Homo sapiens: one gene and its partner. The protein of the gene in region 1 interacts with the protein of each later gene in a pairwise test. Each region holds a gene or a part of one and is shown on either strand. Other genes may lie near its edges. The genes, in order: ZBTB7A and ZMYND8.

The links.
Region 2: the proteins of ZBTB7A (region 1) and ZMYND8 interact in a two-hybrid assay, tested with the Homo sapiens proteins (one large-scale study listed by BioGRID and IntAct).

What each region holds. Positions count from the first base shown.
Region 1 is NC_000019.10:4,049,615-4,053,424, reverse strand, and holds part of ZBTB7A (zinc finger and BTB domain-containing protein 7A), read left to right. Parts: intron 1-3,810. UniProt on the Homo sapiens protein: Transcription factor that represses the transcription of a wide range of genes involved in cell proliferation and differentiation.
Region 2 is NC_000020.11:47,237,920-47,241,729, forward strand, and holds part of ZMYND8 (MYND-type zinc finger-containing chromatin reader ZMYND8), read right to left. Parts: intron 1,220-3,810; coding exon 839-1,219; intron 1-838. UniProt on the Homo sapiens protein: Chromatin reader that recognizes dual histone modifications such as histone H3.1 dimethylated at 'Lys-36' and histone H4 acetylated at 'Lys-16' (H3.1K36me2-H4K16ac) and histone H3 methylated at 'Lys-4' and histone H4 acetylated at 'Lys-14' (H3K4me1-H3K14ac).

The DNA of each region.
Region 1 (3,810 bases):
ATACATGCACATGCATGCAAACATGCACCCACAGACACACATATATGCACACACACGCAAACAGACACACCCCACCTCTTGGGCCCAAAGCCAACGAACGCTTCCCTGACCCACGTGGCTGTTAAGAACAGCCTAGACCAGGCCCTGCCCTTGTGGGTGGACATCCCGGTGGGTGACAGCACAGGCCAGACATAAGATGACAGCCACATCATATGCAAAGCGTGCCGGACAGGGTTGAGCTGCGGGAGGTGGGCGGGAAGGCACAGTCGTTCTTCCTTCCTGGAGGGCTGGTTCTTCTCTTCTGCACTTTTGGATTTTTTTCTTTTTCTGCTTTGGGAGAGGGTGACAGGCCCTCAGGCTTAGGGAGGGACAGCCCAGGCCGTGGAGCGGCTTCTGAGTTTCCCGTGAGCCTGGGTCATTTGCTTCAATCAGCCAACATTTATGAAGCGTCTGCTGGTGCCAGGCCTGTTCTAGGCGCCGGGGACAGGCCTTGCCGGAACCTGAAGGAGGGGAGGAGCAGCTGTGGGAAAGGGCGTTCCAGGCAGAGGGAACAGCCAGTGCAGAGGCCCTGAGGCCAGCTCAGCTTGAGAGATCACTGTGCCCCCCTGGGAGCCACAGGACTTGGTCCCTAAACAGCAGGAGTTCAAGGCCAGGCCCGGGCAGTTTGCAATTCGGTCTCAGGAGTCCAGAGGTGGCTGGCTGGGCCTCGTAGATCCGGGGCGGGCTGTAGCGGTGGGGGCAGGGGGCTGGCAGGCAGGGACCTGGCCAGGCTGGGTGACTCAGCACCACCCCCTGCCCCCCGCCCGCCCTGGGGTTCCCCCAGCCACGCCCACCGAGGCTGAAGAAAGAGGCCATTGTCCCAGCTTCCCAACCCCACCCCGTGGGGACAGGAACTGGGACTGACCCCTCCCCAGCACCCCGGCCCCCTCCCCAGCAGGCCAGGAGAGGAAGGTGCGGCCTGGACTCCGGCGCCCAGGAGTGCCAGGCAGGGGGCAAAGGGCACTTTGGGAGGCAGGCAGTGTAGCTGGTGGTTTGTCCCTCCTTGGTGAGGTTGGGGTACTGGAGGTCTTGGGGGGCTCCTCTTCCTCCAGGCAGGGGTCACTGTGGGTTCGTCTCTGAGCTCAGGAAGAGCAGCTTGGTGGGGTGCAGAGAACTGGGGTCTGCAGAGGGGACCAGGCTGAGCGAAGGTGGTGACCCCCACCCTGCCTCCCTGGCCGCAGGCCACAGGCCCGGTTTCATTCTGACTCGGGCACTGCTGGCTATCCCACCCGACCCGGGGCTGATCCCCTCAGTCAGAGAAACTGAGGCTTAGAGAGGGACAATTGTGGAGACCTCTTCCTCCCACCCCAATTTAGACCCACCTGCTTCCTCTTTTCCCCCACCCCGTGCTCTGGTCCCCCCTCCCCAGGACACCAGCACCTCCACCCTCCAAAAGCCTGGGAGCCCGAGGCCCCTCTGAGTCACAGCAGGGCGTTGAGTAAGTGGGGCCTGTGGTGGCCGGGGCTATAATTACCCAGGCTGGGGCTCGGGGTGATGAAACTAGGGATACCTCCGCCCCCACCCCGCCTCTGCGTGGCCCTCTGGCCTGCTGTGCAGCTCCAGGCAAGTCCCTTCCTCTCTCTGGGCCTCCCAGGCTCATCTGGGGAGTCTCTGCACGGTTCTAGAAAAACCTAGTGGCTGCCATCCCCTCTGTGACCCCGGCCCTGTGCCAGATCTGGGCAAGGCAGCCCGGAGACCTTGCCGTGGGCTTTGCAGAAGGTGATCAGTAAACCAGAGGCCTGGAGGCTGGTAACAGACCTGGTTAGGCCAGGGTTCTGTTAGCAAGTTACCACGTTCTGTTGGCTTCAGTGGGGCAGCAAGGCTAGAGATAAGGTAGGGGTCTGGTTGCCAAGGGCCAGGCCTTGACCCTCAGGGCAACAGAGCCAAGGAGGGGTTAAAGTTAGGGACACCAGCTCTGTAGCTGGTGCCAGAGGGAGGGACTTAGGGCTGGAGGAACCCAGAGGGGAGCCAGGTCTTTGGGAATTAGGAAAGGTAGAGGGGCATTCAAGGTAGGGCTTTGAGGGATGAGTAGGAGTTTGCCAGTCCCCACACTAAAGAAGTCTTCAGTCTATTGAGTGTGAGAAGGAAGAAACCCGAGGTGGCTCAGATGTGGGGCACAACAGGCAGCAGCAAGGAGTAGGTCAGGTTCTAGCCAGGGCTCTTGAGACCCAGGGCTCCCTCCTGCCCTCCGGATCCCAGGAAGGAGTACACTTTATTACTATAGATTGGCATCACTCAATGGGAATAGGCAAGACACCTACTTTTTTTTTTTTTTTTTTTTTTTTTTTTGAGACGAGTCTTGCTCTGTCGCCCAGGCTGGAGTGCAGTGGCACGATCTCAGCTCACTGCAACCTCCACCTCCCAGGTTCAAGCGATTCTCCTGCCTCAGCTTCCCAAGTAGCTGGGATTATAGGCGCCCACCACCATGCCGGCTAATTTTTGTATTTTTAGTAGAGACGGGGTTTCACCACGTTGGCCAGGCTGGTCTCGAACTCCTGACCTCAGGTGATCTGCCCGCCTTAGCCTCCCAAAGCGCTGGGGTTACAGGTGTGAGCCACCATGCCCGGCCAGCAAGCCACTTACATATTTTTACATTTTCTGACAGCCCCGTTCAAAAAAAGTCAAAGAGAGTTGGTGAAAGTGACTTGAAACATTTTACCTAACCCAGTAGATGCATTTCCATGTGTAGTCAATGTGCACGATCCTCATTGAGCCATTTTACATCACCTTTTGCATATCAAGTCTTCAAAAGCTGGGGTACCTTTTGCACTTCCAGCGCACATCAGTTCAGAGTGGCCACATTCCAAGGGTTCAGGAGCCACCTAGGCCACAGGCACCCCACTGATATGGTGACCGGCTTTGTAGGCTAGAGGCTCCAGGCTAAGCTGGGTCCACGCTGCCCCCATGGGGCGAGACAGGCAGGGAGGGGCCCTCAAGTCACACCCAACCCCTGCCTTCTCGGGGCTCACAATCCAATCAGGGAGACAGAGGAGAAACAAGGAAATCAACAGAAACAAGAGAGACCGGCCGGGCGCGGTGGCTCACGCCTGTAATCCCAGCACTTTGGGAGGCCGAGGCAGGCGGATCACTTGAGGTCAGGAGTTCAAGACCAGCCCAGCCAACATGGTGAAAACCCTGTCTCCATTAAAAATACAAAAATCAGCCAGGTGTGGTGGCGCACGCCTGTAATCCCAGCGTTTGGGGAGGCCGAGGCGGGTGGATCACCTGAGGTCAGGAGTCCGAGACCAGCCCGGCCAACATGGTGAAACCCCGTCTCTACTAAAAATACAAAAATGAGCCAGGTGTGGTGGCAGAGGGCCTGTAATCCCAGCTACTTGGGAGGCTGAGGCAGAAGAATTGCTTGAACCCGGGAGACGGAAGTTGCAGTGAGCGGAGACCACACCACTGCGCTCAAGCCTGGAAGATAGAGCGAGACTCGGTCTCAGAAAAAAAAACAATAGAAGAGTCAGGTGGTGATGACAGGAGGATGGAGACAGGGCTGGGGAAGGAGGTGACATTTGAGCCCAAATTTGACTGTGAAGATCCAGGAGGAAAAAAGAAAGTACCCCGGACTGCGGGAGCAGCACATGCAAAGGCCCCAGCGTAGCTTGTGCTTTGCACCTTTGCACGTCAGGGTGGAGCCCAGATAGGGGAGTGACGCTGAAGTGAGGGGAGAGTGGGCAGTCCTGGGTGTCGTGGGGTGGGGACTTGGTTACTAGGGTGACCAACTGCCCCACTTTGTCCCGGACAGAGGGGTTTCCCAGGATGCAG
Region 2 (3,810 bases), on another chromosome or scaffold:
TGGGAGTTCTGATTCTGCAACTTCAGCAAGTGGTTCTTGAGGCTGGCTCATCTTGTGTGTGTGACGAATCTCCAGTTACTAAGGTAACCTTCGCTATCAACTTCTCGCACTGTACTTTTTCCAAAATAACTCCAAGAGGTTCCCTCATGTGCACAAGGAAATTTATACAAAGATATTCATTGCAGCACTGCTCACAGTAGAAAAAAAACTGAAAGCAACCTAAATGCCCATTAGTAGAGGAATGCTTTAAATAAACTATGAAATACTATGCAGCAGTCCAAAAGAACAAGGCAGGGCTGTATGTGCTGATGTGGATGGACCTCCAAAACATGCTGATGGGTGGGGGAAAAAAGCAAGTATGGTACCATTTTTATGTTTTAAAAAAGAAAAAAAGGGGGGAAAAAGGACTAATTTTATGGCATCATATACATGATGCGCACATATATACATACAGATATGTATATATACATATACATGCATACATGCATAGAAAAGCTTTTACAACGGTTGATACTGGCCACTGTGGAAGGGAAGAGAATGAAATGGAAGGTAAACGGGATAACAGACTTTTATGTAAAACTTTCTGCCCCCTTTTTAAGGAGAATATATGCATGTATCATTTATAAAATGAACAAAAAAAACTTTTTGAAAGTAAAAAAGCAAGTAGCAAAACAATTTTTAAAAATAATGCCAAATGGAATGTGCAAGGCCTTCAAGATACAATGGCCCGGAAACAAACGAGAACTAAAAAAAAAAAATAAAAGAGCAATGACTTTCTCCTGTCGATGTGGCAAAATGGGAGCGGGCGCCACGGAGAACAGAAGGGGAGGCTCGGTACCTTTCACAGCCTGTCTGGTCTGATATCTCGTCCCCTGGGAAGACTGAGGCTGCTGCTGCTGGTTTTGCTGCTGCTGCTGCTGCTGCTGACGCTGCATCTTCTGCATGTGCCACTTTTGGGAGGACGTTTGAAACTTACTTGATGAGTTCCACACGACCCGCTGCACGGCCGGGGCAGTCTCCTTCGGTAAAAGCGGCCTCTGCTTTTTCACTGGGCTTCCTGTGGCGGCGGGGGCCGGGGCCGTGACGGTGACCGTGGAGGACGTGCTGGTGGTGGCTGTGGCGCCAGCCGCGGAAGTTTGGGCGGAAGAGCGGGTGAGCACCGGTGTTTCCGGGGGAGAATGGCTGCCCACCGTCGTGGATGGTGGAGTTTTACCTACAACTAGCCAATGCATGAAGAAAAAACAAACAAAAACCGGATTTCACTCAGGTTCACCTGCACGGTCTTGACGCCACCAAGTTCTGGGTAAAACCTATGAAAGCCAGGAATGCCGAACCAATTCGACGTGCCAAGCACACCGCGCTGGAGGAGTACATTCTCACCTAACGCTGAGGCCACTTCTGCGGCGTCTTCCATCTCCGCGAGCAGCGGCCTCCTTTACTGAGCGCCGGCCCACATCTGAGATACAAGTCAAGACCTCTAGGGGAGAATGAGGCAAACAAGACCCGGCTCCTGCGCTCAAGCTCCCCTACACCTAGTGGACAATGCGGTGGGCGAACAGATTCAATGTTCACGCCCTTTTCGCAAAGTTAAAATCTAGTCGGCACCTTGAGAAGGGCCCAGCGGAAGTCAATCCAGACAGGAAGAGCAATTCTTTGGCTAGGGAACGTAGAAAGCAATACCTCCAAAGAGCCAGATGGCCTCCCAATGGCCAAAGCAGTAACACTCAGTCACCCAGAAAGAAAAGTATTCTTTTCATCTCTTCTGATTCCCTCCAGGACAAAGTTTGAAGGCGGTACTGATAGCCAGGACAATACCAGGAAAACAAATTCTGCCCCAAGGCCAGAACCTTCCCCCAACGCAATGGTACTGATCTAGGATTGAGTAGCATTGCTTTGGTTTTGATTGGATTTATTCCTATCACCAGCTTTTATGTATACTGTGTGCTACTGTTCTTATTGGGTGGTGTTCAAGTCTAAAATGAGTTTATACTTGCAGATGCTTTTTTCAGGGGAAATTTTTTTACTAAAAAAATGAGGCCAAGCACGGTGGCTCACGCCTGTAATCCCAGCACTTCGGGAGGCTGAGGCAGGCGGATCACTTGAGGTCAGGATTTTGAGACCAGCCTGACCAACATGGGGAAACCCCGTCTCTATTAAAAATACAAAAAAATTAGCCAGACGTGGTGGGAAACTGAGGCAGGAGAATTCCTTGAACCCAGGAGGCGGAAGTTGCAGTGAGCCGAGATCGCGCCACTGCACTCCGGTCTGTGAGAAAGAGTGAGTGAGACTCCGTCTCAAAAAATATTACTAATAGGCCGGGCGCAGTGGCTCACGCCTGTAATCCCAACACTTTAGGAGGCTGAGGTGGGCGGATCACTTGTGGTCAGGAGTTCAAGAGCAGCCTGGCCAACATAGTGAAACCCCGTCTCTACCGAAAATACAAAAATAGCCGGGTGCGGTGGCAGGCGCCTGTAGTCCCAGCTACTCAAGAGGCTGAGGCAGAAGAATCGCTTGAACCCGGGACGTGGAGGTTGCAGGGAGCCGAGACCATGCCATTGCACTCCAGCCTGGGTGACAGGGTGAGACTCCGTCTCAAAATAATAATAATAATAAATGAAAAGTAAATAAAATGAGTTTATTTTATTTATTTATTGAGATGGATTCTCACTCTGTCACCCAGGGTGGAGTGCAGTGGCACAAACTTGGCTCACTGCAACCTCCGCCCTCTGAGTTCAAGCGATTCTCCTGCCTCAGCCTCCCGACTACGTGGGATTACAGGCGCCTGCCACCGCACCCAGCTAATTTTTTTTATTTTCAGCAGAGACGGGGTTTCGCCATCTTGCCCAGGCTGGTCTTGAACTCCTGACCTCATGATCCATCCGCCTTGGCCTCCTAAAGTGCTGGAATTACAGGCGTGAGCCAACGTGCCCGGCCTATTTTATTTTATGTTTTAAAGAGATAGAGTTTTGCTATATCACCCCGGCTGGGCTCAAGCAAGCCACTTCAGCCTCCCGAATAGCTGGGACTACACGGGACGTGCTACTGTGTCCCGCTTTAAATGAGCTTAATTTTATTTTTAAAGAATGAGATTCTTGGCCGGGTGCAGTGGCTCACGCCTGTAATCCCAGCACTTTGGGAGGCCGAGGCGGGCAGATCACGAAGTCAGGAGTTCGAAACCAGTCTGGCCAACATGGTGAAACCCCATCTCTACTAAAGATACAAAAAATTAGCCGGGCATGGTGGTGTGTGCCTATAATCCCAGCTACTTGGGAGGCTGAGGCAGGAGAATCGCTTGAACCCATGAGGCAGAGGTTGCAGTGAGCCGAAATCGCCCCATTGCACTCCAGCCTGGGTGACAGGGCGAGACTCCGTCTCAAAAAAAAAAAAAAAAAAAAGATTCTTTAAATAAAAAAAGTCAAAAATTATACAAGCAGGACTTGAGAACGGGAAAGACAATGAATGTGAATGACTCAAGTTTGAAAAACGCTGCCATATGGAGTATGTCATCTTGGAGGAGCTGGGCTGGTGGGGAATAAAGGGTAGGATTTCAACAGGCGGAAAGTGAGAATCTGGAGGGAACAGCATCAGCCAAGATATGTCTAGGAATACAGAGCATTTGAGTAAGTGAGGGCAGGCAGGGAGGAGGGGCTGGAAGGGAGGTTAGAGCCAGAAGCACTGAGCAGCACGTAGAGGCGATGACCACACGGGAGCTCATTTGTAAAGGTGGCTCAGTTATGGATGCACAGGCCTCAGCCCCCGGTAAGGTGAGCCTATGCCCCAGAGAGGATATCTGGGGAACACACACCACAC